2 separate regions of the Homo sapiens genome follow, and region 2 is linked to region 1. Evidence: fine-mapped QTL for protein levels in blood plasma. A gene starts in region 1. The other region holds a variant in brackets. All regions are shown on one strand. Distances are between the middles of the regions.

Region 1 (5,378 bases):
CTTAGTGTATCTTGCCTCCTCATTCACATCTTAAAACAGAAATCTGGAAGAGAATATTGCTTAACCTAAAGGAATGCTACTTCATGGAGGAATCTCAGGCATAAACCAGTGAAATTCTAAAGAGCAGGAGTTTCGCAGCATCTGTAACATCATCCTTTCTATGTGGTGTTGAAAAGATATAGATTCCTGGGAAACATTAATGAGAAGGAAGTGGGGAGCTGTAGTTGCAGCCATAAGGGTTGGCTGGTCACACTGGTAAGGCCGACAGTAGCCAGGTCAGGACTGATGGTGGATTGGAAAAAAAAGACCTGCTTATGGTTTATGTAATGTTTATTTATTTTTTGTGTTTTGTGTTTTTCCTGGTCCTTGGCCAAAGGCAAGATTTCCATATTTCCATTTCCTGGTGAAAAGGAGCTGGCAGCACTGGGGCTGATTATTGGATTTGTAATATGAAGCCCTAGCAATGTGCCTCCTGTTTCCTCCCCCCGCCCTGCTCTCTTTCACCATGGGACCGTTTCCCCTCTTCACTGGAGAGAAGAAGTCCCAATTCTACATCCATTTCCCCAAAGCATCCAGGAGCCCAGAAGTCATAGGAACCAGAAACAAGTGGAGCAGAAGGAACTCTTTATTGGAAAGTGGATGAGAGAGGCAGCTCCAGCCGTGGGCATCCTGAATGGGAGGAAGAATGGACAGTGTGGGAAGGGGAAGGGCAGCAGGGACTTAGGACCAGATGGGGCCTGTAGCTCTGGGGACGGCACAGGTGCAGCAAGGACCGGCTCCCTCTGTGGAAGAGAAGAGTATCAGAGGTGAGAGTCAGCACATCAAAGCACTCAGAGGCAGTGAGGAAGACAGATCATCCTTCTAGGCACTCTGGTTATAGCCTCTCAGACCCCTCAGTCTCCCAGTCTTTCTGTCACCTCCCACAACCTCCCTCCCACCAACCTGGGATGCTTCCCCACCGCTCAGCCTTCTTTTGTGTCTTCAGGGGTCTCCTCGTTCTCCAGCTAGTGCTCACCTCACTGGGGAACGAAACAGGCCATCCCGCAAGAGCCTTCACAGCACTTCTTGATTCCTGGGCAGTCAGTATCTTTCAAGCAGCGGTTAGGGGGATTCAACATGGCGCACCGGATCAAGATAATGGGGCAGGAGCCAGGCTTAGTGGAGACTGGACCTTTGACTGGCTCTTGCGCTTTGACTTTATCTTGACCTTTAACTGAAACTTGTCCTTTAACGGGATCTTGTCCATTGAATGGAACACGGCCTTTGACAGTGTCTTGACCTTTAACAGGAACTGTTAAAAGAAGAAACGAGCCCACATTTATACCCAGTAAGCCTCTGCTTCAGCTGCCATGTCTTTCCTCTGGGTCTGGGTCCATCCACTGCTTACTGCAGCATCCTCAAACCATGGCCTGAGTAGGGAAGGTACACCTCTGGGAGCTACACTCTTGGAAGGCTCTTCCTTTTTTGGGGTGGTCTACTGGACCAGAGTTCCCTTGAGTATTTGTTTCTTCCCCCTTCCTCCACTCCAAGTCTCTCAGGAGCAGTGGTCAGACTGGGGTGACACCCAGCAGTGAAGAGGACACATTGTCATTTGTTAGGAAGTGCATTGGAGTAGGAAAGAACCCTGAGCCACATACTAGGAGACTTGAGCCCCATCCTGGCTCTGGGAATTACCTTGGCAATTGCTCACTCATTTCTACATTTTTGGTTCCCTCCTTATAAAATGGGGGTCCTCAAACAACATGATTCCTGAAGGCTTGTTGTTTCTTAACCTCCTTTTAGAGTACTGATTACTCCAGTGCTTTTATGGGGCAGAGAAACGGGGGACTGTGTCCACACCCAAGGTTTAAAATCCTGGAGTTCATTATTTTATTGCACATTCTGCACAGGTATTGACATCTGAGGCCAAGGCCACATACCAACATTACTTCCACAAACAGTCCTGATATCTCAGTCACTGAGGTGGAAAGCACGTGGAGTCCACCAGCCAAAGTCCTATTTTTTCTGAATATGATGGCAAAGAACAGAAAGCTGAAATCTGGGCTCCAGTGCTGCCTACTGCTTCAGAAGTGCTCCCTGTCCTGGCCCAGGGTGTCCCAGAGGGTCTCCCCTTAGTCCAACCCAGCCCAGCAGGTCACCTGTTCACTCACCTCCCGTGACAGCTGCCTCTAGAACCAGCGTCCCAGCGATGAGGAACACCACCACGATCAAGAAGCTGCTGGCCCTCATGGTGTCAGGAAGGTGTTTGGCTAAGAGCTAAGGCCATACCAATCTTTATGCAGTCCAGCTTGGCCTGGCTCCAGGGGCGGGTCTGTGGTATTTACAAGGGATAATTCCTTAGCTGTATTGGGAAATATCCACCCCATTCTGGGAGGGACCTGGGGGCTTTCCCTCAGGATTATTCACAGGAAGAACTAATGGACATTACATCACATCATCTCTGATTGTCCCAAGAGTTTTCCTACTTTCTCACAGAGTAGAAGTGCTGGCTCACTTATTAGGTAACATTACAATGAAATTCTTCATGTTTTGAAATACAGTGAGACCCAAGAAGAGAAAGGAATCACCGAAGGTTATTCAGCAAGTCACTGGTAGATCCAGTCTTGATTACAAAACCAAGGTGTTTCTCCATTATGCTCTGGTGCTACAAACCCCACCCAGATCTACTTTATCATTTTACCACTCCCAGCATCAAACTGGGCATTTCCTTCCTTCTTCCCTGGTCCTGCAAAAAACTCTGTAAGACAAATTTGCCTTGAATACATAATGACTAATTATTGCACTTTGCTGTTTCAGAGACGGCCTTTCAGATGCATCAAGAAAGTAATTGGAAGGTGGAATTCTAGGTCTGAAGAGGGATGATGCCCTTGAAATCACAGTGGTAGGGAGAAAATAATCAGAAAGTAGTAGAAAACATGTATCATGTATACATTGGACATCTACAGTGTGTGTGTCCAGCATGCCTCCCCACTTCTTTGAACAGCACCCTGTTTCTTGTGAAGAATTGTTGTCTCTTTGAACCATCAACTTGTGAGTCTAATGGGGACTGCTAATCATGAAAGCCTGACCCCTGACCACAGGTAGGGGTGTGTGTGTGTGTGTGTGTGTGTGAGTGTGTGTGTGTGTGTTGTGTGTGAGACTTGGTCTGGTCTATTAACATATTTTATTTGAATGAGTAATGAAAGGGGAAAACGGGGGTTCCTTCTTCTGGAAAAGGTGATATATATGAACCAGGGAATTCCAGAAGTGGTTATCTAAGTCTGGGGGTGGAGATCAATTGTCTGAGAAAAACGACTCTAATACACTGAGACAAGGAGAGAAGTGATGGTGAGAGAAGATTCAGATGACACAGCCAGGTTTCCCTCCTTTACCTTGAGAGCAGTTCTTCACACACCCTTCTCATGGTTGGGTTATGAGGCAATAAATTAGCCCTCTGCTTCAGCTAGTCTGACTTACTATTCTGTCATTGTTACCAAAAGTTCTGAGTAATAGAAATGAATATCCTGAAGTTGGGTATTGTCAGGGACAGAATCTGAGTTAAGAAAGTCACTGAGTTGAGGTGGAGTTAAGGCAGGGAAGGTAACAAACTAATTATTGGACACTAATTCAGCTGGTGAAATCCCCACCCCTTGTCGATTTAGACTCTGACCACATGCCCACCAAGCCTGAAACTGAGGGAGACATAAACGAATGTCAGACTGTGGAAGCCTTTGGCTACCTTACACAAAAGCTCATTGTACAATAAGCCATACAAACAAATAAAAAGCTCACAGAAAATACCTATATTCTTTAAAGAATAGCATTAAAATGAGCTGCCAGGTAAAGGAGGAGAATATTTGCTATATCTATGCTCCATGCCTCTCCTCAGTTGCTTCATTCTCCTTCCTCCCCAGAGATAACTGCTTCCTAAGATTTTATGGTAATTAGCCCTTGCTTTCCTTTATAGTTATGCCACTTCTGTCTGTATTCTGAAATATATATTCAGTTTAGTATACTTTTTCAATTTGTATGTAAATGAAATCTAAGGTATAGTGTTCATATGTCCTGCTTATGTTGCTCAACATTATATTTTTGAGAGTCATCCATTTTGAAGTCTACACCTGTAGTTCATCATTTTCACTGCTGTACAGTATTCTATGAAAAATACCAAAAATGTTATATATTCATTCTACTGTCAATATACATTGGATATTTCTAGGTTTTAGCTATTATAGTGTTGCTATGAATATTCTTGTACATATCTCTTGCAGAACATAGGTATGCATTTATTTTGGATATATGGTTAGGAATGGAATTGCTGGATCACAGAGTACAGATCACAGAGTATAGATACATCCAGCTGTCATAAATACTGCAATCAATTTTCCAACATCATTGTACCAATTCACACTGCTATCAGCAATGTGTGAGCATTCCATTTGCTCCATAATCTCACCAATGCCTCATATGATTTGCCTTTTCATTAGCCATTCAGGTGGACATCTTGTGGGATTTCCTGTGATTTGAATTTACACTTTCCTAATAACTGGTGAAGCTGACCCATTTTTAATACTCCTTTTTTTTTTTTTTTTTTTTTTGAGATGGAATTTCGCTCTTGTCACCCAGGCTGGAGTTCAATGGCACAATCTCAGCTCACTGCAACCTCCACCTCCCAGGTTCAAGTGATTCTCTTGCCTCAGCCTCCCAAGTAGCTGGGATTACAGGCACATGCCACCATGCCCAGCTAATTTTTATATTTTGCAGTTTCACCATGTTGGTCAGGCTTGTCTCGAACCGCTGACCTCAGATGATGCACCTGCCTTGGCCTCCCAAAGTGCTAGGATTACAGACATGAGCCACTGCACCCGGCCCATTTTTAATATTTCTATTATCCATTTGGCTATCCTCTTTTGTGAAGTGCCAATTCAAGTATCTTACCTTTTATTTACTTATTTATTTAATTTCAACTTTTATTTTAGATTTGAATGGGTTGTTTATCTTTTCTTATTGATTTGTAGTAGAAAAGAAACTTTTATGCATTACTAATGAGAGTCTATATTGGTGAAACATTTAAAAACAGTTTGACATCAGCTAGTAAAATTGAATGTGTACACAATCTATAATTCAGCAATTGCACTCCTAAAGATTTAATTAAGGAAAATATTTCCACATGTTTACCAAGAAACATGCACAATAATGTTCATAAAAGTACTGTTTTTAACAATAACATACTGGAAACAGTCCATGTTACCAATACTAAAATACTGGATAAATATGTCATGACATATTAATGCATAAATATGTCATGACATATTAATGCAAGGAAGTATTATACAATTATGAAAATAACTGAATTACAGCCATGCACAATATGACCATAATTAAAATAATGTTGAATA
Region 2 (5,378 bases), 38 kb after region 1:
GGAGGGGTGGGTTTCAATTGTTCTGGATACACACTGGGACGAGGGGAGTTGGTCAGACCTGATACAAGCCTGGGGAAAGACAATGCCCTCCTATTGCCTCAAAAGCCGCTGGATAAAGTCAGAATAAGGAAGAGCCAGGGCAGCCCTGCAACACCCTGAAGAAAGGCAGTCCACGAGGGCTCTCATAAATTATACCGCACAAATGGTTTCACGTTATCTCTTCCTGGAGGTGAAAGGAAACAGCTGATGGTTCCGGGTCAAGTTGAGGCACCTCTGACCTCCAGCCCCCAGAGCCACAGCGCCGCCTGCTGGTGGAGCCCCGCCAGAACTGACATAGACTCGTCCAGCCTCCAGGTGCACCCACGCCCTTTTCTTGCACCAAGAAGCTGAGCAGCCTCTCTCTACTCTCTGTGACCGTCCTCTTTGGCCTCCGCATGGTTCAGCCTGGAATCCTGAAGAGTGTGAGTGAGTAAGGCGTGACAATCCTGGGTGTGGGTGGGGTTAGGGAACATTTCCTCTGAGGAATCCGTGGAACGAGCTGGCCCTGATACCTGGAAGTGACTTATGGTTGCCCTCGACTCACCCTGTGGCATCTTTCTCCAGCTGCACCGAAACCTGGATATTGCCCAGAGTTTACTCTATCCTGCCCTTTCACCCTCTTACCTGTGTGCTGCACTATAAAGCCTGCCTGGGGATCGAGAAGTATTGCTTCTTCAACTGTCAACATCAGTGTACAGAGCTTTGGTGGACTTTGGATTGAGGTAAGGAGCCCCAGATCTGCCCTTCTCGGCTGCGCCTGAAACCTTCCTGCAGAAGCATTCATCTTAGAAGGAGTTGATAACTGCCCATGCCCCTGGAAATCATTGAGATCAGATCTTTCAAGTTGGGTTGGCCCACAGATCTGCCTCGGAACAGTGAAGCGGGTGGCTCAATAGACCTCCTTGCTCAGGATATGCACTGTCCATTTCACATAAGGGGCATCACCCTTCTCTTCTGTATGAAGGGGACATTTGGACAAGATAATCTCTAAGTTGCTCAAGGGTTATTGAATTTTTATTGTTATTATTTTAGTTTTTCACGATACCTTTCACAGCACCTTTCTCTTCATATTTAAATTGTAAGGTCAGGGATTATAAATTCATTATTCCTTAGGATGGCTTGCCTAGAGTCCCTGATCCCCAGTCCCTGATTCTGGGGCAGCATATCTCAGTTTTCTGTGAAGGAGAGTACTTAGCAGGATTTCTGCCACAGTGCCCCAGGACACAAATTCATGTCTCCTGCAATGCCATGTCACCTGGCATTGACAAAGTACCAGCCAGGCTGAACCTTCCCTGAACCTTTTCACCTTCCTACATCCCTGATTCTCTCTTCTCTCTCGAGGTGGAAACTCCTTAGCCAAGCCTGAGGAGACGCTGGTGCTACAGGCTCTGATTTGGATAACTGGTCTCCAATTTGTCCATGATCTTCCCAGGCCCAAGATGTCATTTCAGAGTTAAATGCTTGTTAATATGACAAGAAGACAAAGAGATAAAGCATTGTATATTTAAAACCACAGAAAAATCTGTAAGACTGCTGGATCTCCTCTCTCTCTCCCTGTCTCTCTCTCCATCCTTTATGGCTTTTCCCTTAGGATCTGAAAAAAGGATATGATTAATATTTCACATTTAGTTAAGGACCACAAAGGTAGTAGAAGTCTGGACAAGTCTTCCAAAATTTTATTTGTAACTATTATAAACAAATTTTGAAAAGCCAATTATTCCCTAGCATGCTTTAAGTTGACATCTAACATTTTTATCATAATTGCATAATAGTTACAAAGAATAAACTTTTAAGAATATGATGAATATTGTCCTTTCATTTAAAAAGCAACCTTAATCTTTTTAATGTTTCTAACGGAATTTAATCATCTTGACTTGATAGTAATAACTATTAAGGAAAAAAAAAGCATGTTCTTTTCTCCCATCTTCTTCCTCTTCTTCTCCCTTTTTTCAACATTTCCTGAACTATTCAAACCAAAACTATAGGTGAGTAGGTTTGTTTAGGACTCACTCTGAAAAGCAGATACCTAGACAGGATTAGGTAATCAAGAGTGTGTGTCAGGGAAAATGCCTGTGAGGGACAAAGGGAGGTAGCCAAAGTGGCAAGGAGAGCATGAGACCATGATGCAGGGCTGCCTGCTCTGAGGGAGGAGAGAAGGAAGGAGGAAGAGTCTCAGAATGAATTACAACATTGGTAAAGTGCCAGTCAGGCTGAAAGACAA[C/G]GCTTGAACTGAAGTCACCTATCAGAAGAGGCCCAGGTCTCAGAATGAGCCTGCCTTAGTGTTCGGGCCTCACTCAGTCATTGGCTGGGAGTAACCTGATGGAAGCATCCATGACTTCTGCACAGACATAGTGGCAGATGCAGAGGACAGTAGCTGGGGGCATCCATCAGTTGCACACCCTGAAGCAGCAGGAGATCTAAGCAGTGCATTTCCATGCTCACCACTGTCCTCTACCTTGTGTTGCAGTTACTTCTCCAGGTATGGTGATGAAGGCTAGTTATCCCAGCTACTTGGGAGGCTGACGTGGGAGGATGGCTTGAGCCTGGAAGTCAGAGGTTGCAGTAAGGGGAGACCGCACCTCTGCATTCCAACCTGGGCGACAGAGCTAGACCCTGTCGCAAAAAAAAAAAAAAAAGAAAGAAAGAAAGAAAAAAAGAAAAAAGAAAGCTGGTTAATGTCAACTTGTTGAGTTTTTCATCTTGGCTGTCAGGGTCTAATCTATCATAGATGCTTCCCAGCAGGTGTTAATATGTAATACACAAGTCTTCACAGTAAATGTCTCCTCACATTTTGGTCCTCTTTCCCTACCACAGACATCCTTGCTACTGATTTTCTAGTCCTTTGCCTTCCAAGCTCCTTTTTAAAAAATTGGGTTTTAATATTATTTAGGTATTTAATATTATTTAGGTATGACAAAGCGAACATATCAGGAGATTACTGCCTTTTAAAAGAGAGTTTGTTATACTCACATATCTCAAAGGAGAGCCACACCTTGCCATGGGAAGGGTAGGGCAGGGGGGCACATAGAAAGCACCTTTTTCAGTCAAGAGATAGAGGGAGTGAGGGAGAAATGTGGGCAAACCTTTTCTGTGGTTCCTGCAAGAAGGAGCAGGTGAGGCAGGGTAAGTGTCTCAAGATTGGCCAGTTTGAATAATTTCAGTGATCTCTGAGGCAAAAGTACTGTCCCTAGCTGTCTCTGAGCCAGTACCATGATGTTCCCTATGGCCCCAAACCCTAGTAGACCCAGGGTCCAGCCTATCTCAGTAGACCGCAGCACTAGACTGGCCCCCAGAGACTCAGGCTCCAGGCTAGCCCCTATGGCCAGGACCCAGGACAACCCTTGTGAACCTAGCCTCCAGGCCAGCACCCACACACCCAGCCCCCAAGGTCAGCCCCAGTAAACTCAGGCTCCAGGCAGGTCCCCACAGACCCGGGCTCTAAGCCAGCACACACGTCTCCAGGAAACTGGCCAGCATCTGCAATGCCAGGATCCAGACAAGCCCCTGCAGACCCAGGAACTACAACTGCCACAACATGAGGCCAAACCCAGACTCTAGACCAGACTCTGTGTTCTCAGAGTCCAGAAGACAAAGGGTCCAGGATTGCCCTAACAGACCCAGGATCCAGGCCCATCCCAGTAGACCCAAATACCAGGCCAGTTCCCCATGCACTGAGGATCCAGTACCATCCCTGAAGACCCATGCTCAAGGTCAGACACCATGGACCCAGGACCCAGGCCCGGCCCCTTGGACTAAGGCTACAGGCCTGCTCCAGTAGACCCACGTTTCAGGCTCATCTCAGTACTTGGCCAGCCCTTTCAGACTCAGGCTCAAGGGCCACCCCAAGAGCAAGCCAGCCCCCATGGACCCAGGCTTCAGGCTAGCTCCTGTGAATACAGATTCCAGGCCCAACCCCACCCAGGTAACACGTCCACCCACCTGCTGACCCAGGCACCAGGCTAGGCTGCCCAAGCACTCAAACCTGCCCAAAGACCACACTCAATGGTCTCCCCAGAATCTCTGGACAGATTGACTGGGGAAGGGCTCTCCCAGACAAAGTCAGTCTGAAAAGCCTGGAATAAGTCCCTACTTCTTCAAATGCACAGATAGTAACATAAGGGAACAAGAAATATGAAAAATTAAAGAGATATAATGCCACCAAAAGAACACAATAATCTCCTAATAACTGACCTCAAAGAAGTGGAGAAATATAATACTGTCTGACAAGGGATTCAAACTAATTATTCTTAGGAAGCTTGATGAACTTCAAAAAATAATACTAATACAGAGAAATAATTCATGAAATCAGAAAAAGTAAATAAGAAATTTAATAGAGAGAGTAAAGCCATTTTTTAAAAGATCAAACAGACATTCTGCAGCTGAAAAATGCAATGAATGAAATTAAAAATTCAATAAAGAGCATCAGCAGCAGAATTGATCAAGCAGAAGAAAAAACCTGTAAACTCAAAGAAAAGTTATTTTAGAATATACACTCAAATGAGAAAAAAGAAAAAAAATGAAGAGTAGTGAAGAAAGATTATGAAATATCTAGGACAGCATCAAAAGAGCAAATATTCGAGTTATGGGATTTTAAGAAGAAGAGACAAAAAGGGGTAGAAAGCTTATTTAAATAAATAATAGCAGAAAACTTTCCAAATCTGGGAAAGGACATAAATATATAGGTATAGGAAGGTCAAAAGCTTTCAATAAAATTTAAACCAAACAACACTACAACAAGATAGATTACAATCAGTCTGTCAAAAATCAAAAGCAGAGAGAGGATCCTAAAAGCAGCAAGCAAAAGCACTTCACATAAGGGAATTCCAATAAGGCTAACAGTGAACTTTGCAGCAGAAACTTTAAAGACCAGGAAAGTGGAATGATATATTCACAGTGCTGAAGGAAAAAAAGTAACTGTCCTTCAGGAATGAAAGAGAAACTAAAATTGTCCAGACAAACAAAAGCTGGAGGACTTTATTGTCAAGAGACTAGTATTACAAAAAATGCTAAAGGAAGTTCATCAAGCAGAAAGAAAAAGATTTTAATAAGTAAGATGAAAACATACGAAAGTATAAAACTCACTAATAAAAGTAAGTACATAGTCAAATTCAGAATACTCTAATACTATAATGGTGGCGTGTAAATCAAATATTTTTAGTATTAAGGGTAAAACACAAAACTATTAAAAATAATAAAAGCTACAATAACTTGTCAAAGAGCACACAATATAAAAAGATGTAAGTTGTAACATTAAAAATTTTTAATGTGGGAGCCAGGGACAGTAGCTCATGCCTATAATCCCAGCTACTCAGGAGACTGAAGCAGGAAAATCACTTGAG

Which allele goes with the higher level. Alleles are on the strand shown, and positions count from the first base shown. The strength of an association depends on the size of the effect and on how common the allele is.
In carriers of allele C in region 2, the plasma level of the protein whose gene starts at base 2,250 in region 1 tends to be lower than with G alone (weak association).

What was found. A credible set is the group of variants that fine-mapping cannot tell apart. PIP is the chance, under the fine-mapping model, that this variant and not a neighbour inherited with it causes the effect. Protein levels are from antibody-based Olink assays in UK Biobank. Linkage for the fine-mapping came from a reference panel and not from the study's own genotypes, which makes the PIPs less certain.
Region 2: its variant is the best candidate, but not a certain one, in a credible set for the plasma level of the PI3 protein (UK Biobank, PIP 0.55).

The regions. Positions count from the first base shown.
Region 1 is chr20:45,171,774-45,177,151 of GRCh38, reverse strand. PI3 (peptidase inhibitor 3) reads right to left here and starts at 2,250. Exons shown (of 3, transcript NM_002638.4): 1 at 2,151-2,250; 2 at 1,016-1,291; 3 at 608-782. The coding sequence starts at 2,229. The coding sequence ends at 1,017. RefSeq lists an enhancer at 1,461-2,660.
Region 2 is chr20:45,133,900-45,139,277 of GRCh38, reverse strand. It overlaps LOC101929863 (a long non-coding RNA gene), which reads left to right and starts at 249. Exons shown (of 3, transcript XR_936751.3): 1 at 249-461; 2 at 604-761; 3 at 1,381-1,840. RefSeq lists an enhancer at 376-435. The variant C/G (reference allele first, on the strand shown) is at 2,261.